Linked DNA regions of Homo sapiens. The protein of the gene in region 2 purifies or fractionates together with the protein of the main gene of each other region. This does not show direct contact. Each region holds a gene or a part of one and is shown on either strand. Other genes may lie near its edges.

The links.
Region 1: the proteins of SLC16A10 (region 2) and PCNX1 purify together in Homo sapiens (affinity purification with mass spectrometry; one large-scale study listed by BioGRID and IntAct). This does not show direct contact.
Region 3: the proteins of SLC16A10 (region 2) and CLCN7 purify together in Homo sapiens (affinity purification with mass spectrometry; one large-scale study listed by BioGRID and IntAct). This does not show direct contact.
Region 4: the proteins of SLC16A10 (region 2) and KIF5C purify together in Homo sapiens (affinity purification with mass spectrometry; one large-scale study listed by BioGRID and IntAct). This does not show direct contact.
Region 5: the proteins of SLC16A10 (region 2) and CAV2 purify together in Homo sapiens (affinity purification with mass spectrometry; one large-scale study listed by BioGRID and IntAct). This does not show direct contact.
Region 6: the proteins of SLC16A10 (region 2) and CXADR purify together in Homo sapiens (affinity purification with mass spectrometry; one large-scale study listed by BioGRID and IntAct). This does not show direct contact.
Region 7: the proteins of SLC16A10 (region 2) and TRPM7 purify together in Homo sapiens (affinity purification with mass spectrometry; one large-scale study listed by BioGRID and IntAct). This does not show direct contact.

What each region holds. Positions count from the first base shown.
Region 1 is NC_000014.9:70,906,234-70,910,258, reverse strand, and holds the start of PCNX1 (pecanex-like protein 1), read right to left. Parts: upstream 2,801-4,025; 5' UTR 2,409-2,800; coding exon 2,256-2,408; intron 1-2,255.
Region 2 is NC_000006.12:111,174,503-111,178,002, forward strand, and holds part of SLC16A10 (monocarboxylate transporter 10), read left to right. Parts: intron 1-2,709; coding exon 2,710-3,163; intron 3,164-3,500. UniProt on the Homo sapiens protein: Sodium- and proton-independent thyroid hormones and aromatic acids transporter.
Region 3 is NC_000016.10:1,454,529-1,458,028, forward strand, and holds part of CLCN7 (H(+)/Cl(-) exchange transporter 7), read right to left. Parts: intron 3,229-3,500; coding exon 3,166-3,228; intron 2,810-3,165; coding exon 2,726-2,809; intron 1,679-2,725; coding exon 1,585-1,678; intron 1,268-1,584; coding exon 1,203-1,267; intron 723-1,202; coding exon 606-722; intron 1-605. UniProt on the Homo sapiens protein: Slowly voltage-gated channel mediating the exchange of chloride ions against protons. Functions as antiporter and contributes to the acidification of the lysosome lumen and may be involved in maintaining lysosomal pH.
Region 4 is NC_000002.12:148,997,227-149,000,726, forward strand, and holds part of KIF5C (kinesin heavy chain), read left to right. Parts: intron 1-37; coding exon 38-114; intron 115-1,173; coding exon 1,174-1,283; intron 1,284-3,196; coding exon 3,197-3,298; intron 3,299-3,495; coding exon 3,496-3,500. UniProt on the Homo sapiens protein: Microtubule-associated force-producing protein that may play a role in organelle transport. Has ATPase activity. Involved in synaptic transmission. Mediates dendritic trafficking of mRNAs.
Region 5 is NC_000007.14:116,502,738-116,505,889, reverse strand, and holds part of CAV2 (caveolin-2), read right to left. Parts: intron 1-3,152. UniProt on the Homo sapiens protein: May act as a scaffolding protein within caveolar membranes. Interacts directly with G-protein alpha subunits and can functionally regulate their activity.
Region 6 is NC_000021.9:17,551,043-17,554,542, reverse strand, and holds part of CXADR (coxsackievirus and adenovirus receptor isoform 1 precursor), read right to left. Parts: intron 2,795-3,500; coding exon 2,590-2,794; intron 1-2,589. UniProt on the Homo sapiens protein: Component of the epithelial apical junction complex that may function as a homophilic cell adhesion molecule and is essential for tight junction integrity.
Region 7 is NC_000015.10:50,676,798-50,680,297, reverse strand, and holds part of TRPM7 (transient receptor potential cation channel subfamily M member 7), read left to right. Parts: intron 1-3,500. UniProt on the Homo sapiens protein: Bifunctional protein that combines an ion channel with an intrinsic kinase domain, enabling it to modulate cellular functions either by conducting ions through the pore or by phosphorylating downstream proteins via its kinase domain.

The DNA.
Region 1 (4,025 bases), on a different chromosome or scaffold from region 2:
ATGGCCGTGATGATGATGGTGCTGGTGAGAGGAGGAGGAGGAGGAGGAGGACGAGGAGGAGGAGGAGGAGGAGGAGGAGGAGGAGGAGGAGGAGGAGGAGGAGGGGGAGGAGGGGGAGGGGGAGGAGGAGGAGGGGGAGGAGGAGGAGGGGGAGGAGGAGGGGGAGGAGGAGGAGGAGGAGGAGGAGGAGGAGGGGGAGGAGGAGGAGGAGGAGGAGGAGGAGGAGGGAGGAGTCGTCGTCTAGTTAGGTTTTGAAGATACAGCCCCTATTGCTCATAAGCAATAAGTGGCTGAGAACTCTAAAACCAGCAGTCATGCTAACCGCATGTACTGAACTTTGGAAGTTCATTTCTCAAGGCTCTCCATCTTATTATCCATTTCAGGTAAAGGTCTGAACTGATTAAGAACAGCTCAGCACCTTCTGGTTTGGGAAGAGTGGGACTGCCATTAATTGAGATAAGGAAGTCAGAAGCAATCTCAGAAAGTGTCTAGTACATGGTAGACACTCAAATATGTGAGAATTCAGTTTAACTGAACTCCCAAAATGAAGGAAGTAAACTCAATGTCCTGGTTTCCATTTGCTCTAATATTCTTTCAGTAACATTTGCTAACTACACAAAGAGACTTAACCATGACCACACAGTTTACTACAAGTGTTAAAAAAGAAATCTTACACTGGACCCAGCAACTAATCCTTACCTCTCAAAAATCATTTTCAGTTTTAAATCTACAATTCTTCTGGACATAGAAGAAATTTGCTTTGAAAATTTTGTGACAGCCTGAGGATTCTTAAACCCAAAGTAATTAACCCGTTCATTAATGATGTCATATTCCTGGAAGGTATAGTAGTGCAAATAGAACTCCCTAGGCCAAAATTAATTGAAAATTATAATACTTCACGATAAATTTTCAGAATGCAACAAGACTGAACAAGTCCCCCTAATAAAACAAGCCACAAGCCATCAGCATTTCTTAATGGCTTTTTTTTTTAACCTCAAACAATAAGTCCCTTCAAAACAATTTCAACGAAAAATGTGAATCTGCTTGAGAATGTGCACATCTTCCCTCAAGCAGACACTTTTCCTGCCAATTAGTGAAACTGAACTTCACTTAGGGAAGAATTGGGTGTCCTCACCTTTTGCACTTCTCATAGTGGTCCTCCGGGATTTTCTAACTCAGCACCCTGTCTCTAGCTCCACAAAGAACCTCAAAGTTAGCAGAAATACATTCAAAGGAATTCTCCTAAAATAAAAAGTTCAGATCCTTTCCTCCCCTCTGACTACTTTAAAATTTTATATGAAGCCTTAAGTAACATCTCTGTCCACACGAGTTTCCCTAACGCCCCACCCTAACCTGTGCTTTAGAAACTGCGCTTAACAACTTTCAATGTTGCTTTAAAAACACAGATGATTCAGAGAAGCTGATCGCACCGAATTCAGCAACAGGCAGTACTCTCTCTCCCTACTCCTATCCGCCAAAGGCCTTGAACCAAGCCAAACAAATCTGCTGAAATGCCAGCCAGATTCCCCGTTATCTCCCCGCTCCCTCCCCCCAGGGAGGCCAGGAAGCACCACGGCCACCGGCCACGGGGCCGAACAGAGAAGAACCGCTGCGAAGCACAACAACGGTTTTTTAGAGGCAGGAGGGTTCCGAGCCGGGTTTTCAGCCACCACCCAGGACCCCTGGAGGACGAGCCCGGACGACCCCCACACACACTCGGAGCAGAGCCGCACGGTCCCCCGCGCTCCCGGGGCTCCGCACGCGGATTAGCGGCGAGGCGGCGGGCGGCCTCTCCCGGGAGCCCCGGACGAGGGCCGCGGCGGGGGCGGGCAGTGCCGGATGCCGGGCGCCCGAGGAACCCAGCGTGCCAAGGATGGATGCGGCGTCCCCTAAAGCCGCAGAGCGCTCGGCGCCTGCCACACAGCCCCACGGGCGGGGGGCCCCGGCGGGGACGGCCTAGCCGAGTGGCCGCAGGAGGGAACCCCGAGAAGGGGCCTAGGACGCTGCCGCTTCCCAGTGAGCGGGCGGGGGCGGCCGGCGCGGGTTGCCGTGGGCTCGTTGCTCGTGTCACCTCCGAAACCAGGAAAGCCCCGAAGAGAGGAGTGGGAGCACGCAGTGGGGGCGGGGAGCCTCACACCGAGAGGGTGGCGGCCCCCGGGGGACGAGACCCCGTGGAAGAGGAAGAGGGCGCGACCCCAGCATCTCCCCACCGGCTCGCGGGGAAGGAGCCACCCGCTCCCCGCCCCCACACTCACCATGTAGAGGGTGAAGGGCAGGCCCAGCAGAAAGAGCCACAGGTAGAGGTGCAGCGCGTTCACGAAGGTGGCCTGGTGCGGGTCGTAGTACCAGCCCCCGCTGAGCGCGGCCCACACCCCCTGTCGGAGGATCTGCAGCGTCTGCGACCCCATCCCCACCCGGCGCCGCCGCCGTCGCCGCCGCCGCCGCCGCCGTCCCCGCCCCGGCCCCAGCTCGGCCTCGGTCGCCGGAGCCTGCAGCTGCCCCGTCTATCCACCTCCGGAGCTCCGGGTGAGCGAGCCGGCGCTTCGGCGGTCGCTGGTGCTGCTGCAGGAGGAGGAGGAGGCAGCAAACGAGGAGGAGGAGACCCGAGAGGAGGAGGCGGCGAGCGGCGGGGCGGAGGACGGCGGAGAGGAGGAGACCGGCCTTCTGAGAGCCGCCGCCATCTTGTCTCCTAACACCCGGAGCCGCGGCCCGGCCCCCGCCACCCGCGGCCCGCCAGCGCCCCCACTGCCGCCGCCGCGACCCCCGCCGGCCGCCAGCCCTGGGCCAGGCAGAGAAAGAGGCCCGGCGCCAGGGAGCGACCGAGAGGAAGCCGCGCCCCCTCCAGCTCCTCCTCTCCGCTCCCTCCGCCCCCTGGGCCGGCTACGGTGCGCGCCGCGCCTGGTCCGCCGCGGGCGCCTCCTGCCGACGTCCGGGAGAAGCGCGCGTCAACGCGGCCGGGGTTCAGGGCCCCGGGGGCTGCGGAGGTGGCTGAGACGCGGCTGGCTGGTCCGGAGGACCCCATTCTGCCCCTGGTAGGCCCCCTGGCAAGTTCGCCTACGAGTCTCTAAACGGGGTCTTTCTGACTCCGAAACTAACAGATCTTGACTCCAGAAAAGCGTCCTGCCTGTCATTTATGATATTTGTGAAAGACCTAGGAACAACTGAAGCTAACACCTGAGATACTGAAGGCCTGGAAGAGTTAGGTACGGCTGATGACACTGTTGAAAAGTCATAAACGCACCCAAGTTGAGCAAGAACTGTGTTGGCCCGTGTGTGAGAAAAAATAGCCACGTCCAGACTGGGAGAATTTACTACTTCCAAAGACAAGTTAATAGAAGCGGCACAGGACATGGAAGTATGGAGTGGACAGGTTACCATTTGTACGCGGTGATTGTATTTTTAAATGTGCTGTAACTAGCAGCCATTTTTATTAATGGGCCAATCTAAACAGGGTTGAAAAAGATTAACCGTGACGCCACCCCAAATTACAATAGGGTCTTGTAGATCTCTTTTTATAGCTGTAAAAACGGAATCATTCTTGGCTCTGTGTAATGTTTATAAGGCGTGTCTGATCTCACTGAATAAAATTTTATAGAAAAGTTTGAAATTTGAGTTTATTGAAGTTTGGCTTTTATGGCAATAAAAGTACTGTGTATTCCCAGATTACAGTTGCTATAATTAATGAGGGAAACAAGAGCCAAAGGAAACTGGTGATATTTTAAGAAGAGTAATGAAAAACCGTTACAATACCTCCCAGTGCCATACCACTTTATAGTTGCTCAGACACTATCACACCCATTCCATTCAGACCTCAGGACAACCCTTTGAGGGCAGCATAGCAGCTATTGTTATTTTATGGATGAGAAAACCTGTAAACTCAAGTAAGTGATTGGCCAAATGCTTATGGCCACTTATTGCTCATAAGCAATAAGTGGTTGAGAACTCTAAAACCAGCAGTCATGCTAACTGCATGCACTGAACTTTGGAAGTTCATTTCTCAAGGCTCTCCACCTTATTATCCATTT
Region 2 (3,500 bases):
TCTTTAAAGTACCTTTATGGGTTTTTTCTTCTAAAATTGTTTTTTAAAGAAAAAAGTTTTATTTGGAATAAGATTCTTGTAGGTAATTCCATGAGATGATTTATTTTAGCAGCAACATAATATTTACATTATTATTAATGTAATTAATGTTATTAATACCTCATCAGATAGCTTCTTTGATCTGGAAGCTTCCAGGTACCTATTGTCAGTACTTGTGGCTCTACCACTTGCCGAATGTATTACAACTCTAGTTGTGGTAGAGAGGGGACTGAGAGGTAGACAACTTATGTAATCTACTACCTAGTTTGTTAACAAAACACACATACAAAGCAATGTTTTTCAAATTTTTCTGACCACTGAGCAATAAAAATTATGACATATATTTTGATGTGACCCAGTTCTGTCTCTCTTTCTCTACCCTCTAAGTGAAACAAAATTTATTGAAACCAAAATTCCCTTACTACATGTAATATTCTCATATATTCTATTAAATTTCGTTATTTAGCTTGCTGATCAAAGGCTACTGAAACTTGAGAGCAAGATACAGGAGCAAGGGGAAATGTGGTATAGATTCTGAGTGTCAAGTGGCAGGTCCATTTTTTCCTCTAGCTCCAGTTCTGCCTTCTGAGGAAAACCTTCTCCAACAACTTAGGTCAATCACACCCATGTCCCTTCTCTGAATCCTTTTTGCACATATGATTGGTATCCGACAGCCTTACTCATTTACATTGCACTTATTTGGCTGCCAAACGTCACAAACTGGAACCATGTGTTACTGAAGGGAAAACCTGGAAGTGAAAAGGGTTCAGCAGTAGTGCAAATACCATCATAAAGCTCATATACTTCACTCTGCAGGAGGGAGAAGCTCTGTGGTTTTCCAACTGAGAGCATTACAGTACAGTGATACCACTGTACAGGAACTGATGTTCCTGATGATTCTGCTGTGAACAGTATTTTTAATATACACTTTGAAGAAGGCAGAGAGAAATGTATAATAGACTTAAATTTTTTTCTTTAAAATTGTTAAATAAAAACAAATAAGCACTTTAAGTAAGTTACAATTATCTGGAAAACTACTTAGGTGGAAAAACTGATACAGAATGAATGAAGTATTAATTTCTGTTTTGTTCTGTGTTATTATTATTTGGGATAGATGTCTTGTTTCTTTAAGCAGACTATGAATATCTTGAAGGCAGAACCACATTTTTTTTTTTTTTGAGACAGGGTCTCACTATTACTCAGGCCAGAATGCAGTGGTGTTATCATAGCTGACTGCAGCCTGGATTCCTGGGTTCAAGCCGTCCTCCTGCCCCAGCTTCCTGAGTAGCTAGGACTACAGGCATGTGCCATCACACCCAGCTAATTTCAGCTATTTTTTTTTTTTTTAAATAGAGATGGGGTTTTGCTATGTTGCCAGACTGGTCTCAAGCCATCCTCCTGCCTTGGCCACCCAAAGTGTTGGGATTACAGGTGTGAGCCACCACGTCTGGCCAAGGACCAGATTTTTAATATTCTTTTCCACAATGTATCTGGTACACAGTAGTTGCTTAATATGTTGGCTAAACAAAGAGTGGAGATTCAGTAAAGGGTGATCAGAGTGAGGTGAGATTAATTTGGGAAAGCCTAGAAGTGATTCTTGAGCCTGATTTGAAGGTGGTGCTAGCTGTGGATTAGTAGAGGGAGAAGGGCATCTCAGAGAGAGGATTGCCAACATGCCTTAATTTTATCAGATTCTAGAGTTCCTTATGATTACCTCAGCATGTTGCTAGACTAGCATTATTATCCAAAATTTTAATTATTAACCAACTTTAATCTTACTTTCTAACAAATTGTTTGCTTTTACTACTGATAGCCTTTTCAAAAAACTTTAACTAGTTTTATTCCTTACCATAATTGTTTCAAAGAACATAATGATATGATCCTTTATCTTCCTAAGAAATGTGCAATTATTTGGTTAAACTGTAAGATTATTTAATCCATTATTCTTTTGACACATGCATGGCCTTACAGCTTACAAACTGGGATCACTAAAGGAATACACTTAATTTAAGTCTTTCTGTAGTCAGAATATGATTTCTTGTTGTCTTGCACAATACTGAGAACAGTGCAGTACAGGGCGAAGGTTGGTCTACAGCCCTTAGGCCAGCAAAAACAGGCACAACTGCACCTCTGTGCAAATGTTCCTGACATAACCTTGGGGAAAAAATATAAAATGCGGCCTTTTCTTTTACTACCTTGTTTGGTAAGTACCTGGAAAAACTCCATGAAATAATTAGATTTCATAGTTAATTCTAACTTTTTTAAAAAATGTTTCATTGAGACTAGGTTTTTGGTTTGTTAATTGAATCACTGTTGATTTTACCCTTCCTGGCACCAACCTTTATTTCTGAGCTGTGGAGAGCACAGTTCTCACTCAGTGCTGTGTGCGTCACCTGAAATCCACAGAAAGAGGTGGCTGAACAAAATCACTGATGACCTTAATGGTTATTTTTCACATATTCAGATTAAATTAAAATACGTTTAGTGCTACATGCTTGACTTACTGAGTTTTTCCCTCTATTTTGGTTAATTTTTTTTTTTTTTGGTTAACTTTTACTTGTAGAAAATATGTTGATGAACAAAAACCCACTTATACTATAAGATTTTATTCTACCAAGCACACAGTAACAATATTGAAAGCTGCTTTCCATCTTTTTCATCTTTATACAGTTCCATCGAGCCTCTGTACCTTACCTATGGAATCATATTTGCCTGCGGCTGCTCCTTTGCATACCAGCCTTCATTGGTCATTTTGGGACACTATTTCAAGAAGCGCCTTGGACTGGTGAATGGCATTGTCACTGCTGGCAGCAGTGTCTTCACAATCCTGCTGCCTTTGCTCTTAAGGGTTCTGATTGACAGCGTGGGCCTCTTTTACACATTGAGGGTGCTCTGCATCTTCATGTTTGTTCTCTTTCTGGCTGGCTTTACTTACCGACCTCTTGCTACCAGTACCAAAGATAAAGAGAGTGGAGGTAGCGGATCCTCCCTCTTTTCCAGGAAAAAGTTCAGTCCTCCAAAAAAAATTTTCAATTTTGCCATCTTCAAGGTGACAGCTTATGCAGTGTGGGCAGTTGGAATACCACTTGCACTTTTTGGATACTTTGTGCCTTATGTTCACTTGGTGAGTATGCTCCTTCACTGATCATGAATATTACTATTTAATAAAGAAAAACTTCTTTGAAGAGAAAGTTAGGTCGAGTTAAAGTTGGCCTCAAACATTATCCTGGTTGTAATTTTGGTATTCTTGAAATGAAAGGTCTCTCAAGACAATGTCAGCACATCCATTAGACCACTAAACAGAGAGAGTATGTTTCATAGTGTGCTTTGGTATTTTAAAAACCCTGCAAACCCAGCCAGACACCATGGTGCCTGTCTATGGTCCCAGCTACTAAGCTGAGGCAGGAGGATCACTTGAGCCCAGGAGTTCGAATCCAGCCTAGACAACATAGAGAGACTCT
Region 3 (3,500 bases), on a different chromosome or scaffold from region 2:
AAACTCAAGGACCACCATCTTAAGAGAGCTGTCCCCACAGAGAGCCTTCCCGCCCTTCCACGCAGGCTGCGGAAGTCCACAGGGGAGAAACACACTGGGTGTTCTGAGCAGGCCTGGCCCCTGCCTGGCGGGGTGGCCAGCGAGGCTCTCAGAGACCCTGCCACCCTCAGCACCCGGGGCGGGGAGGGCCCCAAGCACTGGGAACATAGCCCGTGGTCCCCCAGTTTCCTGCGCACAGAGCCGCCCTATCGATGGCACGGAGAGTCTCCCCAGCCCAGGCCCCAGGCTACCCTGGAAACTAGGCCTGAGCCCACCTGCCCCGAGAGCGGCTGCTGCACGTGCCCCCAGGCCGTGGGAGGCCCCATGCACGCAGCAACTGTGTGACATCCCAGGTGCCCTGCTGGTCACATGGTGCCCTGACCTGAGGGGCAGCTTGGGGTGTCTTCCTGCAGCCCCTCGGGGCCCTGGAGCTTACACAAGAGCTCTCAGCTCCACAGCTATCAACCAGAGTTTTCTAAAGGACCAAATTCTCAACCTGGGCCTTAAGCAAACAGGGTCCTGGACCAGGATACGAGGTGGGCGAGGTGGGCGATGGGGCAGGTTACCTCCGAGTCAAACCTTCCGAAGTTGATGAGGCCTGGGCTGGACAGGTCCCACATGTTCCCGTGGTAAATGCTCAGAACAAAATTCAGGGTGAACGTGGAGATCATGGAAGCAAAGAACTGCGGCAGAGGGCAGGAAACCAGCGCCCTCAGAGCCACGCTCCCAGCCCAGGGCTCACGGACCAGCAGGGACCATCGCCCCTCCTGTCAGCCCCGGGGCCAGGAGTCTGCAGACCCCGCCCAAGGCAGAAGGGAAGGGGCTGGAGCCAGGGGTGGGCGCACTGTGCGGGCAAGGAGCGGCCCAGCCCTCTCTGGACTTGCCAGTGGAGAGCAAGAGGGGAAGGTGGGGCAGGGCTGGGTTCCCGGCTGTTTGATCCCCTACCCGGGAGCCACCCAGGGCTGGCAATGGTGCCCAGGACCAAGGGCGAACTGGGCAGCAAAGGCAGGACCGCTGCTTTGGGCAGGACCAAGGCCTGACAGACCCACAGGGGGTCCAGCTCCAGCCGCAGCTCGATGGGTGGCCCCAAGGTGGACCCCATGGTGGGAAATGAGAGCGCAGCATGCACCCTGATCAGGAGGCAGCCATCAGCAGGAACTTACGATCCTCCAGGTCAGGAACTGGTTCCAGAAGGACGCACCCTCCTCCAAGCTGAACAGGACCCCACCTGGAAGGCAGGCGGCCGGCTCGGGTGCCAGCTGGACACAGGGCACCATGCCCACCACCAACTCCCTCCCCCAGGCTCCAGGGAACCCAGACCACGTCAGAAAGAAGCTAATGGGGTGGGCCCCAGCCACACAGAGAGGGACCCTGAGGGAGGTCTGAGGGCTGGACCCAAGTACACTGCCGGCCGCTTCCAAATGCCCCGGCCGTGACTCCAAGCCTCTGCCACCCTCAGCGGGCACTGGGCCTACAGAGAGGAGACCGTTCCTTCCAACACACAGGGCGAGGGCAAAGCATTGGACCCGGTGCGGCCCTCCTCACCCACGGGGGCTCCAAACGCCGCTGACACTCCGGCCGCAGCCCCTGCGGAGACGAAGTCCCGCTTCTCTGTGTCTCTGCGGAAGTACTCGAAGATCTGCAACAGGGACAGACCAGGGTCGGGGCAGGTTCCTTGAGGGCACGGCTCTCAGAAAGGGAGAGCAACTGCCAGGACAGGGGCTGTGCAGGGGAAGGGGCTTTCAGGACAACCGAGTCAGCAGCTCTGATTCCTGAAGAGCACCGTGCTGCAGACCACGGCAAGAGACAGCAGGGTCAGCACCACCACCGGCAGCCCAGGGAAACACGCAAACACCCAGCCAGGAGCTCCACTTTCCAGCGCACGCAAGATTCCAAAAACCTCTACCCTCTAACGAAAAGCGCACGGATGGAAACCCAGCCTTGCTGTTCTTTGTCCTGCGGGACGCTGCCTGCCTCTAAATTCACACATGGCCGGCGCGGTGCCTCACGCCTGTCATCCCAGCACTTTGGGAGGCCGAGGCAGGCGGATCACCTGAGGTCGGGAGTTTGAGACCAGCCCGGCCAACATGGCAAAACCCCATCTCTACTAAAAATACAAAAAACTTAGCCAGGCGTGGTGGCGGGCACCTATAATCCCAGCTACTCGGGATGCTGAGGCAGGAGAATTGCTTGAACCTGGGAGGTGGAGGCTGCAGTGAGCTGAGATTGTACCACTGCACTCCAGCCTGGGCAACAGAGAGACTCCATCTCAAAAAAAAAAAAAAAATACAATCACACACAAATGCAGCTCAATCCCCATCAACATGCTGGGGACTTTTTTGGGGAAAAAGTGTTCCAAAGTGTGTCTTGACAAATAAACAACAGGTGGGCACACTTGGTCTCAGGTTCTGCACTCCTCTGAGAAGCCGCTTGGAGCCACAGACCCTCCCACGGGAAACACTGATGCACGTGTGGCAGGGGACCCAAGGAGGGAAGCAGCGGGCCGTAGGGAGGCCTTGCCGGGCAGGGACTGTGCCCGCTGGCTCTGGGAGCCACCCGCCAGGCTGTCCTCAGATGGGGCTGGGGCTCTCGGCCTGGGGGTGCTGAGGGAAGCCCATCTCCCTGAGTGGTGCCCGTGCCCGTGCCCATGGCATCTGGAGCCCACCCACACAAGATTTCAACTCACCTTGAAATCTCGTTTCAGTGACGTTGACCTTCCCTGAGAGATCCCGGCGGCAATCACTGAACCTGAGTGGATCATCGGCCCTTCCTGGAGACCAGAAGGACCGGTGCTCAGAGACACGCGTGACGCGGCCCTTCCTGGAGACCAGAAGGACCGATGCTCAGAGACACGCGTGACGCGGCCCTTCCTGGAGACCAGAAGGACCGATGCTCAGAGACACGCGTGACGCGGCCCTTCCTGGAGACCAGAAGGACCGGTGCTCAGAGACACGCGTGACGCGGCCCTTCCTGGAGACCAGAAGGACCGGTGCTCAGAGACACGCGTGACGCGGCCCTTCCTGGAGACCAGAAGGACCGGTGCTCAGAGACACACATGGGCGTGGCGGCCCTCGCGGGCCCGGCGGCCTCAGGCTCCAGCTGGAGTGGCCATGTGCACTTTGTTACCTTTCCCACGGCCAGGCCCCCGACCACGGACAGGATCACACCGGACACTTTGATCACCAACGTCTGAAACACAGGGAGACGCATGGCCTCTGATGAAAAGGCAGGCGCTGTCTTTGGACCTGAGCCGTAAAACAGCACACACAGCCCCGATCAGGCAGAGTGGCTGGGACACGGGGCCTCCGGGAGGGGGCCAGCACCCCCAGGCTGGGTCTCCCCATGGCCACAGTGGAGCTAAACAGCAGCCAAGCGTCCCCCGCACTCACTCGGGGGACCTGCCCTCTGTGGCCTCAGCACTGAGCAGGCAAGGGGTTCTTTCGTTTCCTTCCTTCCTGAGG
Region 4 (3,500 bases), on a different chromosome or scaffold from region 2:
AGTTAAGTCTTAAATCATCATTTAAAATTCAAAACAGAAAAAATGCACGAAGTCAGCTTCCAGGATAAGGAGAAGGAACATCTGACGCGGTTGCAGGATGCTGAAGAAATGAAGGTGTGTGTGGCTGCCCCTTCCATCAAGCCCAGTGTGCATTTGATGCATTTGGATTGGAAATGCTTGTTCTAGGAAAATCTGTCACCTTCAGATCCGTATATGGCAAGGGACAGGGGAGGGGCTGTTGTTGGGCATTCAGAGTCGATCTCAGAGTATAGCCTGGCTTAGAAATGAACAAGTCCAGAAACCCCAAGATGTCTGTAGAGAATGGTTAAGTTGCGTTAATACCTTTGTCTTCACCATTCCTGATGAAGAGGGAAAGGGTAGCACCCCCAATCACTGCATGGGCTCTTTTGTCGGAGTTAACTTCTAAGGATTTCTTCCTCCAACCTTTACGCAGAACACACCAAATTTGAGTTTCTATCTCAAACATAGAGATTTTTCTTTTGGTCACATTTTAAACTGTAAAGGAAAATTGATTGTGGAGTAAGACTTTTAGGTGAATAAAATGAGACAGGAGAAGATGTAGGATTTTGATTAGTTGTAGGCAAACTATGAGCCTCATTGAGTCAAGGTCCACAGTTAAAGACGTCCACGGCATGCCCTTGCTCCAGCCAGCAGAATAAAATCATGCGTCGTGGGAGTCCCTTTCCTGTTTTCAGAGTGCTGTTGCCAAAAGGTCTCCTTTGGACATCATCATAAATCTGTGCAGTGGGCAGGGCAGGGGCTTTTATCTCAGTTTTACATGTGAGGGAGTGCAGCTCACACAGGTTACAGGCTTATCTGGAGGTTACGTGGATAGGGAGAGGTTGGTGCCCTCTGACTGACCTGGCTGGAGAAGCTCAGGCTGGGCTGTAAAAGGTCAAGGGAACACTTTTTATTTAGTTGGTGGGCTAATTGGCTTCTAGGGCCAACTTGGTTTGATAACAGATCTTGGGTTTTGTTATCCCAATAAAGCAAGGCCGGGTCCTGGGGGCAAAACAGCCAGAAATGCCCCCAGTTTTGGGATCTGACATCTGAGGGACACAGGGAAGGAGGTAGGTCCAGATCCAGGGCTTGTCACAGAGTGGGCTGAGTGCCAACGAGTAGATGACATGTTTCTCTTGGCCTGGGATGCAGAAGGCGCTGGAGCAGCAGATGGAGAGCCACCGGGAAGCTCACCAGAAGCAGCTGTCCAGACTCCGAGACGAAATTGAGGAGAAGCAGAAAATCATTGATGAGATTCGGGAGTGAGTCGGCCCAGGGCACCAGGGGTGTGGGGGTGGTCATGCCTCGGTCCTCTTGGGGAAGCCTGGAAGGATGTGGCTCTTAGTCGAGGGCCCTGCTCACCTTGCCCTGTGGGCACTGCCCTGGTGACACAGCAGGCTGGGCGGGCTGCTTCCAAGGTCTGTTCTCCGATCTGGAGCTGAGCCTCCTGGAGCCCTGGCATGGCAGGTGGCAGGCGGGCCCAGCTGCCTCTCCTAGTCCCCGAGGGCCAGGGTCACATAGGTGATTCCGCTGGATGGACGCATGCCCCAGTAGATGGGGGGGAGCATCTGTAATGAAAGCACCAAAAAAAAAAAAAAAAAAGAAAAGAAAAGAAAAGAAAAAAAAAAAATTTGGTCCTGACTACAGGATTCTAGTAGGTTAATAAACACTCGAGAGAAGACAGCACCACCGCCTCCCCTTCTCCCCCTACACATACACGCTCACTGGGCAACCCAGCCACCTGGTTCCATGTGCTCACTTCTTAGGGCCCCACACTGTCATGTGTCTGTGCAGGTAGAGGTGCCAGTGACCTGTGGCACTGCCACCAGGATGGCATCATTGCAGTTTCTCTCAGGTGACACCCCCTCATGTTGTGCTCCTGCCTTGTCGCAGCCTCTGACATGCCCTCTGCTCCTTCAGAATAATGTTTTCAAATGCTCTGCATAAAAGACCTGGGATTACAAAGAAAACCAATTATATTGAAATGCTGACCTCCCCACCCCCACCCCACCCAGGGTCTACACTGTTCCCTCCCCTCCCGCTTTCTGTAGATGAAGAAACAGATTTCTATATGGGAAGCAAGGCGAAATGATTTACTTAAGGTCACATTGCTAAATAGGAATCAGATTGGAGTTAGACTTTAATTCTCCAGACTACTGATCCAAGTCCCTTTTCAATGTGTGTGAGCCGCTCGAAAGGTGCATTTGCATTTTAAAAGAGGAGAATGGTAACCCAAGCAAAAGTCTAAATGGTGTGACCCAGGCTCGGTGCCCAGTTCCTGAAGGAAGGCACTTAGCCTCCTCCCTCTTTTTCTCCTCTTCGGCCATCCCCTGCTGTTGCCATGTTGTGCTTTTCCCCTTCAGGGATATCTCACATTCGTTATTCTGATTAATCACCCTCACAGATTCGACTGGAAGGGAGGGGGAGGTTGGAGGGAAGGAAGAGGGAGAAAGAGGGTTGGTTGGTGAGTGAGTTAGGTGGAGGGGGAAGCTTCCCTGGCTTGTGCCTTTCAAATGGACTCTGGGTTTTCCTTCTGGTAGTGCATAGCTGTTCCTTTACAGGCGCTTAGGCGTGGCTCTAGGAAAGGTTTTATGAGTCCTGGGCTGATGTAAATGTTGACCAAACACCCTCAACCAGATGGCGAGTTTCTGTTTGCAGCAGAGCCCAGGCTGTCTTTTCTTCATAATTCTCTCTGTGCCCACTCCTCGAGGGCAGGAACTGTCCCTGTATCAGTGAGGCATTCGGACTTGGGAGATGTTTTTAGAACATCAGACCAGAAATGAGGGAAGGTGGAAATGGCCAAATCAGGTTCCCCAAGTGACTGCATGCCATCCGAGGGGCCGAGGAAGCAGAGTTCTTCTGACATGGGCTCTCTGTTTTAAAATATCAGCCCTTCTCCCATCTCATTATTTTTCCCCTGAAGCTCTTGCACAAGCAAACTATAAATACATCCTCAAAGCCTTATGTTTCATGACTCTTAGATGCACCCCAGAAATTAGTTTTCACTTGGGCACGGAGGAAGCTGTGAGGCTGTTCTGTGATCCCTCCAAATCCTGCAGAATTACTGCCTTTATTGTACAGAGCTAATAGGGTTGGAACAGAACCACGGTTTTAGCCTGATGACTCAGAATTTCAGACTGATGTGGAATATATTGCTTTTTCCTCTCAATTTCAGTTTGAATCAGAAACTGCAACTGGAACAGGAGAAGCTTAGTTCTGATTATAACAAGCTGAAAATAGAGGACCAAGAGAGAGAAATGAAGCTGGAAAAGCTCTTGTGAGTGCACTCTAAATATTTCCTCTATTTTCTCTCATCCCCATGATATTCTGGTTAGATTGGGCTAATTTAAAAACAGACAATGGCTATTTGTGTGCTTGTTGGTGGGTTTTGTTGATTTATCTGTGGATGCAAATAGTATCTGCTGAAATCTCTGAGTCCCCTGTGGTGGTCTATGGTTCCTTTTTGTTTTTCAGATTGC
Region 5 (3,152 bases), on a different chromosome or scaffold from region 2:
ATACTGACCCATTTACTTAAATTTGGTTGAGAGTTTGAAACAAATAAATGAACAATGATCACTGATAATGATTTGGGTTTTTTGTCCCCCTGACTCTCATTTTGAAATGTAGTCCCCAGTGTTGGAGGTGGGGCCGAGTGGGGATAATTGGATCACAGCGGGTAGATCCCTCATGAATGTCTTAGTGCCTGCCACCCTCTTGGTAACGTGAGTTCTCACTCAGTTAGTTTGCTTGAGATCTGATTAACTAAAAGAGTCTGGGACCTCCACATTCTCTCTCTTGCTCCCTTTCTTGCCATGTGACGTGCCTGCTCCTCCTTCTCCTTCCACTATAAGTGGAAGCTTCCTGAGGTCCTTGCCTAAAGTAGATGCTGGCACTGTGCTTCCTGTACAGCCCGCAGAACTGTGAGCAAAAATAAACCTCTTTTCTTTATAAATAACCTAGTCTCAGGTATTCCTTCATAGTAATGCAAATGGACTAAAGTGATAAGATGCACAAAAAATATGTTGCCTAAAAATATAGTCATGTAGATAATAAACACTAATATTCTTTCTACTGGTGGCATGCTATCTGAAACAGTAAAACAAAAATAAATAAAACCATGTCTTTATCTACCTGGTCTCTGCCAGTTAACATTAACCTGCTTAAGTCTTCACACTTCCCTGAGGGTTTACTTCCTGATAGCCTTTCCTGCTGCCTCAGTCTTCTTCCCTTTTCCTGGACCAGGCTAGATCGGATATTCCCTCATTGTATTTCTAAAGTACTGAAACAAACTTCTTAATTTTCACATGTATCAAAAGGTATTATAAATAGATGCTGTATTTCTGTCTTTCCTACTAGCGTTTAAGTTTTTTTAAACAGTGAGGACATCCTTGACCCTTAGTAAATGGTTGAGCTAACATAAATTTATCATTCTTTTATGCCTTATGTTATTAACTATGTTTTATATTTTTTAATTTTTTCACAGTAATCACACACACTGAAAAGGGCTGTATGGTATAGTTGAAAGAACCCTGCAAATGATGTTAGAACTTTTACACAAGAAAACTAGTCTATCCTGAAATTGTTATTTTTCATACACTTGTTCCTAACATAGCTGCATATCCTTATAGTCCTCAGGATGGTTAATTTTATATGTAATTTTCTAAATAATGTTCTCTGTTGTAGTAATGTCCTCTGAGCACAAAAGTAGTTGTGAGATTTTCAGGCACTGCTGGTAGCCTCAATGGAAGCTTTATTATTACCTGGGTGGGCATAAGGGAGTAGGCTGATTTTCTTGGTTTGCTATTAAAATATGACTTAAATGAGGGTCTGCTGTACTTAGCCCAAAATGAAGGAAATATTAGGCAGCTTTCTGATTGATTGATATATTTTTAGAATATAGAATTATTCACATTGACTGTCTCCACAAATTGTGTTTTATTTCAAGTGCTAAATACATGAAACACTTTTATATAATAAGAAAATTAATTACTAAGTGTTTCAGAGATAAATAGCTGAATAGAAACCTCAATGATGGCAACTTTAGACTTATTATTCTATTATATTTCTCACTTGATATGTGGTCTTGGGCATGTTGCTACAAATTAAAGTGACACCAGGAGATCTCTCAGAACTGGCTATGAGGATTGACATTTATTATGTACCCCTGAAATGCCTGTATGATGCTGTCATTATAATGTATAATAAATAGACCTATTTTGAAGGCAGAATATATAATGAAAATAACTATAACAAGATGACCTCAAATTGGCCTATTAAAAGGCTGAAGTTTAGATCAGAAAGTTTCCTAACCAAATCCACTTCACTTAGAATTCCTTCCTTCTTTCTTTCTTTCTCTTTCTTTCTTTTTCTTTCTCTTTCTTTCTTTCTTTCCTTTCTTTTCTTTTTTCTTTCTTCTTTTCTTTCTTTCTTTCCTTCTTTCTCTTTTTCTTTCTGTCTTCCTCCCTCCCTCCCTCCCTCCCTTCCTTCCTTCCTCCCTCCCTCCCTCCCTCCCTCCCTCTCTTTCTTTCTCTCTTTCTTCTCCCCTCCCCTCCTCTTCCCTTCCCTTCCTTCTTTCTTTTCAGGTTCTCACTCTATTGCCCAGGCTGGAGAGCAGTGAAGTGATCTCGGCTCACTGCAACCTTCGCCTCCCGGGTTCGAGTGATTCTCCTGCCTCAGCCTCCCTGAGTAGCTGGGATCATGGGCACTTGCTACTATGCTTGGCTAATTTTTGTATTTTTAGTAGAGACAGAGTTTCACCATGTTGGCCAGGCTGTTCTTGAACTCCTGACCTCAAGTGATCTGCCCAGCTTGGCCTCCCAAAGTGCTGGGATTACAGGCGAGAGCCACTGCTCCCAGCCAGAATACAATGTACTTTCTATTCTTCCTTAGGCTAACAAATTTTCTATCTCCGTGACTCCTTAGATCTCCATGTCCTAAAAGGGAATTTAGCACATGTCAAAAGTGAATCTTCTTGTTCAGCAAAGCAGTTACCCACATTCGAGGAGTTCAGTTTATAGGGTGTTGTTAACTCATTTGGATTTTATTTTTGTTTACTTGTGTTCCCTCATTTTGGAGCAGAGAATCTAATGATCCTCCGACATCAAACTTAAGTTGGGTTCTCAACATCACAAATAGTTTAGCTTCTGAAACTCCAGGCAGTTCTGATTGACCCAAAATTTGGTTGAGGCTGAATGTGGCCAATACTTCTTAAGTAAATCTTATAATATATATATATTATATATATTAATATATGTAAGGTTATATATTCCTTGGATAATATATATCCTTGGATAATAAGGCCATAGGATAGAGACTTTTATTTAGTGTTGTAGTAATTGTAGAGTCATGCAGACTGCATTCATAGCAATTTACTGTATGAAAACTGTCTTCTAGAAATGAGATTGCTACTATCGCATTTCCATCAGTTGGGCATTTGTTTGCTTTGCATTCCAGCAAAAATAAGGGATATGGGTGCTCCAGCCACATTTCTTTGGTTATGATCCACTTATGACCAATAACCTGTGCTTAACAAACAGCAGCTATCTCTGTCTGACTGTAGTATGGAATCCAACTAATTCACTGATTCCTAATGGCCCGTACTTCTGGTCTAGGATCCAACACCACCAGACTTCTGTGTTTTATTGTTGTTGATTGTTTGTTTAAAGGA
Region 6 (3,500 bases), on a different chromosome or scaffold from region 2:
GCAATCACTTCCCTGCTTTCTCCTCTCATCCCCAGTTTATCCCCTCTCCCCCTCCTTGGTTTGAACTGAAGGCTGACTTGGCTATAAAATTCTCCCCAGGAGTAACTCAGGGTGAACTGTGTCAATGCTTCCCACTTACCCATTCTTAGGACATGCTGGGGTTCAAAGTTTAATATAAAAAGGCCATTCCTACTGCCGGGCAGTCACGGCTCCTGCCATGAGTGAACTGAGCCACATCATGTGCCATCCCCTACCACCCAACTCAGGTTCCTTTTTGGGACATGTTCTGCTGTAATGTTCTCTTCAGTTGAGAACTGCAAATGTGACCCTGAACCTGGTCCCACAGGATCCAGACAATACACAAACACACAAACATGCTTGTCCACAACTCTTCTGGGAATATGTGCCAACCCCATTAATCCCAGTGTAACTGTCCCATCAAACAGGGGTTTCACAATAAATAATTCCGATAATCAAATATCTTCTGCTTCGCATATCATGAACCAGTTAATATTCCGTATACATCTTCCAACTTAATAGTTCCTAGAGAGCAGTGTTGGAAGAAAGTATAGTCAGGGTTATAATCTCAGGAATTCCTGGGTCTGTGATAAGAATTCAGACCAGGTAGCTGGGTGCGGTGGCTCACACCTGTAATCCCAGCACTTTGGGAGGCCAAGGCAGGCAGATCACGAGGTCTGGAGATTGAGACCATCCTGGCTAACATGGTGAAACCCCGTCTCTACCAAAAATAAAATCAGCCAGGTGTGGTGGCGGGCACCTGTAGTCCCAACTAATCAGGACGGCAAGACAAGAGTATTGCTTGAACCCAGGAGGCGGAGGTTGCCGTGAGCCGAGATCATGCCACTGCACTCCAGCCTGGGTGACAGAGCGAGACTTGGTCTCAAAAAGAAAAAAAAAAAAAAAAAAAGAATTCGGACCAGGTGTTAATCTTTCACTTGCTTATACATTTATAACAAAGAAAAGTTACTCCATGTTTACTCAATGAAGACACAGAAAATTCAAATTTCCAACATTACCATATTCCTTTTCCTGGTTCCTTTTTTAGATTGACTTACTTTCACACCACAAGAAACATTTTTAGTTAGTGCGATTCAGAATGATGCATTTCACCAGGACCTCTTCAGGTCCCCATTCAATGATGCTGCCAGCAGAGTCTATCTACCAAGACAATGCATGAATTTGCCATGAAGGTACACAAAAATCCCCACTCTTGTTCCTAGTCTCTAGGAGTAATAGTTAAGTGCTGGGTCTACTTGTAGGAGGAGTAGTTAAGTGTTGGGTGCCCAAGTCATCTTGAACATTGCTCTCCTAAAGAGTATTCTTGTAATCTCAGCACTCTGGGTGGCCGAGGTGGGTGGATCACCTGAGGTCAGGAGTTTGAGACCAGCCTGGCCAACATGGTGAAACACTGTTTCTACTAAACATACAAAAATTAGCCAGGCGTGGTGGTGCATGCCTGTAATCCCAGCTACTTGGGAGGCTGAGGCAAGAGAATCACTTGAACCTGGGAAGCAGAGGCTGTAGTGAGCAGAGATTGTGCCACTGCACTCTAGCCTGGGTAACAGAGTGTGACTCCATCTCAAATAAAATAATATTAAATTAAATTAAAATTAAAATAAAGAGTATTCTTTAGAATATTCTACCCCACCCCTAATCAGTTCTCTAAACAGAAGGAATGAGGTAAATGTTGATGTGGGAGGCCTGCCCTGATCAGTTATTTCCAGTCATGCTAGACAATTCTAGCATCAGCTTTTCCTATGAAAGTCAATCCCCAAGTGTCCCCTAAAACATGAGGACAGGGGAATTTACTGTCATTAAGCAGAGAGCTAGACAGCTATGTTTTTCTACATGGTAGCCAATGTACATTTTGTGTAAAGCTTACCACAGTATGGTTTTAGAAGTATATTTATGAACTATTATCTTTCAGTTTCTCAATTTGAAGGGATTAAGAGTGCTTGTAGACATTATCACAGAATCTAGAGAAGGATAATAAACTCTGTAGTCTTTGGCAGTTTACAAAGCAGTTTACACTACCTCCCTATTAACTATTACAGAGAGGGCTATAAGATATCAGTGAATGTCTCATCTCCTCACTTTAATGATGAAAAACAGTGATGCCAAGAAGCTTAAATACTATGTGATGCCTAATGGCCTTACTTGAATTCAATATTCCTTCTTCCATATTTCTTCATCTCCATTCTAAATGCTTAAATTATTCATCATAGAAACATGGTTCTACATAATTCTCAGGGCAAATTCTGAGGACAAGGCAAAAACCCTAGATCTCCTAACTCCTAGCTTAGGGTTCTTCCTCCATACCATAATACTCGTTCACTTATTTTCAAACTCTTATGAATTTCACAAAGAAGTTGATCACTTCTTACTTTTCCTATCCAAAACCAAAAGCTAGTTTTATATTTGATGCTATCCAACATAGAAGTACTTCAAGTGTTTAAAATTGTTATTCTAAAAAATTAAGCTTTATTTTATACAAGTGCTGCTACTACAGTACTATGACTAATCATTCTCTTACTCAGTAACCCGTTAACACAAATAAAAATAACTTACCAAGAACTACCAGATGAATCTTCTTATTTGCAACACCAGGAGCTTTTTTCACTTTGCACTGATATGTGCCAATATCTGACAGTTGTAAATTCGTTACATTTATTGATGCATCACCAGATTTGAGATCATTACTCGTAAAATGTACTCGGCCTTTCAGATCTGGATAGTAGTCATCATAAATTTTGTCTCCAGAATATAAAATAATCTAAAAGAAAGCCAAAATTAGACAGGAGGAAAAACAAACACACACAAAAAAAACTGTCTCTTAAAGGAGCCCTGGATACACCTGCTGCTACAGAACGCCCCCTCCCAGAAAAGAAAAAGAAGAACACAGTATTATGGGGAAACATAAAACTACCCAAACCACAGAACGAGAAAATGGAAAGGAATCAATGTGATCCTTGGGTATAGTCCCAGACTTCTATTTTTAATGGGGAAACCAAGACGCAACATGATAAAATAGTAAAGCCCTATACTGTCCTAGAGAGCAATTTAGTAAGATTGGGCAAGAACACAGATTTGCTTGTTCGTTGTCTTTTCTTTTCCTTTTCTTTTCTTTTTGAGGTGGAGTCTGTGTCTGTGGCCCAGGCTGGAGTGCAATGGTGAGATCTCGGCTCCCTCCACCTCCCGGGTTCAAGCAATTCTCTCGCCTCTGCCTCCCCAGTAGCTGAGACTTCAGGCACGTGCCACCACAGCCAGCTAATTTTTGTATTTTTAGTAGACAAGGGATTTCACCACGTTGGCCAGGCTGGTCTCGAACTTCTGACCTCAGGGGATCCACCCGCCTTGGCTTCCCAAAGTGCTGTGATTATAGGTGTGAGTCACCATGCCTGGCCTGCTCATTCTTATATACTCTATTTTTCAACTGCCTCTGAGGCTGTAGTTTGCCAACCAAGTGTAACAAAATCAAG
Region 7 (3,500 bases), on a different chromosome or scaffold from region 2:
AAGTACTGGGATTACACGCATTAGTCTGTATGCATTTTATTTTATTTTTATTTTTATATTTTTTGAGATGGAGTCTTGCTCTGTCACCCAGGCTGGAGTGCAGTGGCACAATCTCAGCTCCCTGCAGCCTCTGCCTCCCGGGTTCAAGTGATTCTCCTCTGTCAGCCTCCCGAGTAGCTAGGATTACAGGCACCCGCCACCATGCCCAGCTAATATTTGTATTTTTAGCAGAGACAGGGTTTCACCATGTTGACCAGGCTGGTCTCGAACTCCTGACCTCAAGTGATCCACCCACCTTGGCCCCCCAAAGTGCTGGGATTACAAGCGTGAGCCACCGCCCGGTCATGCATTTTATTTTGACAAGTGCAGAGACACATACTCTGGGGCAATCCTTAGTAGATTAGAAAAGTCATTAAATAGATTTCTGGATGGGTGTAACTCTTTGTTAAAAGCAGCAGGAAAAGACTGGGCATGGTGGCTCTTGCCTGTAATCCCAGTGCTTTGGGAGGCTGAGGCGGGAGGATTGCTTGAAGCTAGGAGTTTGAGACCAGCCTGGCCAACGTAGATAACCCCACCTCTACTAAAAATATAAAAATCAGCTGGACGTGATGGTGTGCGCCTGTAATCCCAGCTCCTTGTGAGACTGGGGCATGAGAATTGGTTGAATCCAGGAGATGGAGGTTGCAGTGACTCCAGATTGCGCCACTGCACCCCAGCCTGGGTGACAAAACAAGACTCTGTCTCAAAAAAAAAAAAAAATATATATATATATATATATATATATATTATATATATACACATATATATAATATATATATATATAAATGAAATAAAACCTGTAGAAACCTATCATGAATGTATCAACAAAAGTATCAACACCCTGCTCACTGATAGATAATGGGTTGATATGGCTTACTCGCAGTGTGAACGTCCAAGCGTCCAAGTTTTCTGTTTTGTTTTTTTTGGATAGTGTTTTGCTCTGTTGCCCATGTCAGAGTGCAGTGACATCATCATGGCTTACTGTATTCCCAACCTCCTAGGCTCAAGTGATCCTGCCACTTCAGCCTCCCAAGTACCTAAAATGACAGGCCCATACCACCAACCTGGCTAATTAAAAAATTTTTTTGACTGGGTGCGGTGGTTAATGCCTGTAATCCCAGCACTTTGGAAGGCTGAGGCGGGTGGATCACCAGGTCAAGAGATCGAGACCATCCTGGCCAACATGGTGAAACCCCATCTCTACTAAAAATACAAAAATTAGCCGGGCGTGGTGGCACGCACCTGTAGTCCCAGCTACTCGGGAGGCTGAGGCAGGTGAATCTCTTGAACCCAGGAGGTGGAGGTTGCAGTGAGCTGAGATCACGCCATTGCACTCCAGCCTGGGTGACAGAGCGAGACTTCGTCTCAAAAAAATTTTTTTTTTTGTTTTTGCAAAGATGGGTTTCTCACTCTGTTGCCCAGGTTGATCTTGAACTCCTGGGCTTAAGTGGTCCTCTTGCCTTGGCCTCCCAAAGTGTTGGGGTTACAGGCATAAGCCACTGCACCTGGCCTTAAGTTTTTAAATATATAGAACTTTTCTACCAATTGTTACAGAATTATAGATGCTTTTCAATAATATCTTTAAAACTCTCATAGGGTTCGTATCTAAAATGTCAGTAATATCTAATTATTAATTAGTTGAGTAGTTGGCAGCCAGTTTAGAGTAAGAGTGGAACTCTGTGACATAATAAAATTATGTATATGTGTGTGTGTGTGTATATATATATATATATATATATATTTTTTTTTTTTAAAGAATGGAACTAGAGAGTAGGGTCTGTAAGAGTGTCAGAAAGTCAAATGTATTGAACTCTGATAGGGGAAGTCAGAGAGTGCCAGCTTATTTCAACATTTTGCTTTAGGCTAGTCTTATTTGTCATTGTCTGTGTCACCCTTGGCAGGCATGTTGGTCACCCTTGGCAGGCATGTTGACCCATGTACAAATTTATCACATAACTCTGAATTTCTAGGTGTTGGTTTTTGTTTTTGTTTTTGTTTTTGTTTTTGTTTTTTTTTTTTGAGAGAGAGTCTCACTCTGTTGCCCAGGCTGGAGTGCAATGGTGCATCTTGGCTCACTGCAAGCTCTGCCTCTTGGGTTCACGCCATCCTCCTGCCTCAGCCTCCCGAGTAGCTGGGACTACAGGCGCCCACCACCACGCCCGGCTGATTTTTTGTATTTTTTTAGTAGAGACGTGGTTTCACCATATCGGTCAGACTGGTCTCAATCTCCTGACCTCGTGATCCGCCCGCCTCGGCCTCCCAAAGTGCTGGGATTATAGGCATGAGCCACTGCGCCCAGCCAATTTCTAGGTCTTTAGTGTCATTTAACTTTCTTTTCTTGAGCACATGAACTTTATTAGTAGGCAATTTCTTTTAATTTGATTACCGTTCTTTTGAATATGGGTCACATTTTCCTGTCCATTACCATATCTAGTCATTTTGGAGTGTATATTGGACATTGGGATTGTTACTTAGTAGAGGCTCTGGGTTACCTTTTGTTTTTTTTTTTTTTTTTTTTTTGATACGGGGTCTTGTTCTGTTGCCCAGGCTGGAGTGCAGTGGCGTGATCTCAGCTCACTGCAAGCTCTGTCCCCCAGATTCAAGCAATTCTTCTGCCTCAGCCTCCTGAGTAGCCGGGATTACAGGCGCGTGACACCACACCCGGCTAATTTTTGTGTTTTTAGTAGGGATGGGGTTTCACCATGTTGGTCAGGCTGGTCTCAAACTTCTGACCTTGCGATCCGCCTGCCTTGGCCTCCCAAAGTGCTGGGATTATAGGTGTGAGCCACCACGCCCAGCCTCTGGGTTCTCTTTTAATCCTGTGCTCTGTGTGTGTGTGTGTTGTTGTTGTTGTTATGTACTGAATGTGATCTCCCTCGCTCCCCGAGAATTCATATCTTGAAGCCCTAACCTCCAGTGTGATGGTATTTGGAGATGAGAACTTTGGGAGATGGAGGTAATCAGGGGTAGATGAGGTCATGAGGGTGGGGCCCTGGGTCTGATAGGATTTATGTCCTTAGAAGAAGAGATACCAGAGAGCTTATTCACTCCCTCTTCACTGTGTGAAGACACAGTGAGGAGGCAGCTGTCTGAGAGCCTTCATCAGACACTGGCCCTCCTGGAATCTTGATCCTGAACTTTCAGTCTCCAGAACTGTGAGAAAATTTGTTTCAGTTGTTATCCCACCAAGTCTGTGTGGTATTGGTTGTGGCATCCCAAGCCGACTAAGACAGTTGTTGATTAACTTCATTGTACTCAAACTCCAAACTGTCTCTCCTACAATGGGCAGCAGGAATATCTGCTCAGTTATTTTATTTAGCTGGGCTGCCTGGAGGCTGCCCCATGTGTACGATCTTCATGGGTCAGTGAGAGATTTGTGTAGAATTAATATTAAGTATTTAGGATTCCTTTTCTCAACTCTTGCGGAAACTTTCCCATCACTTTCCAGCTGCTGTTTTCAC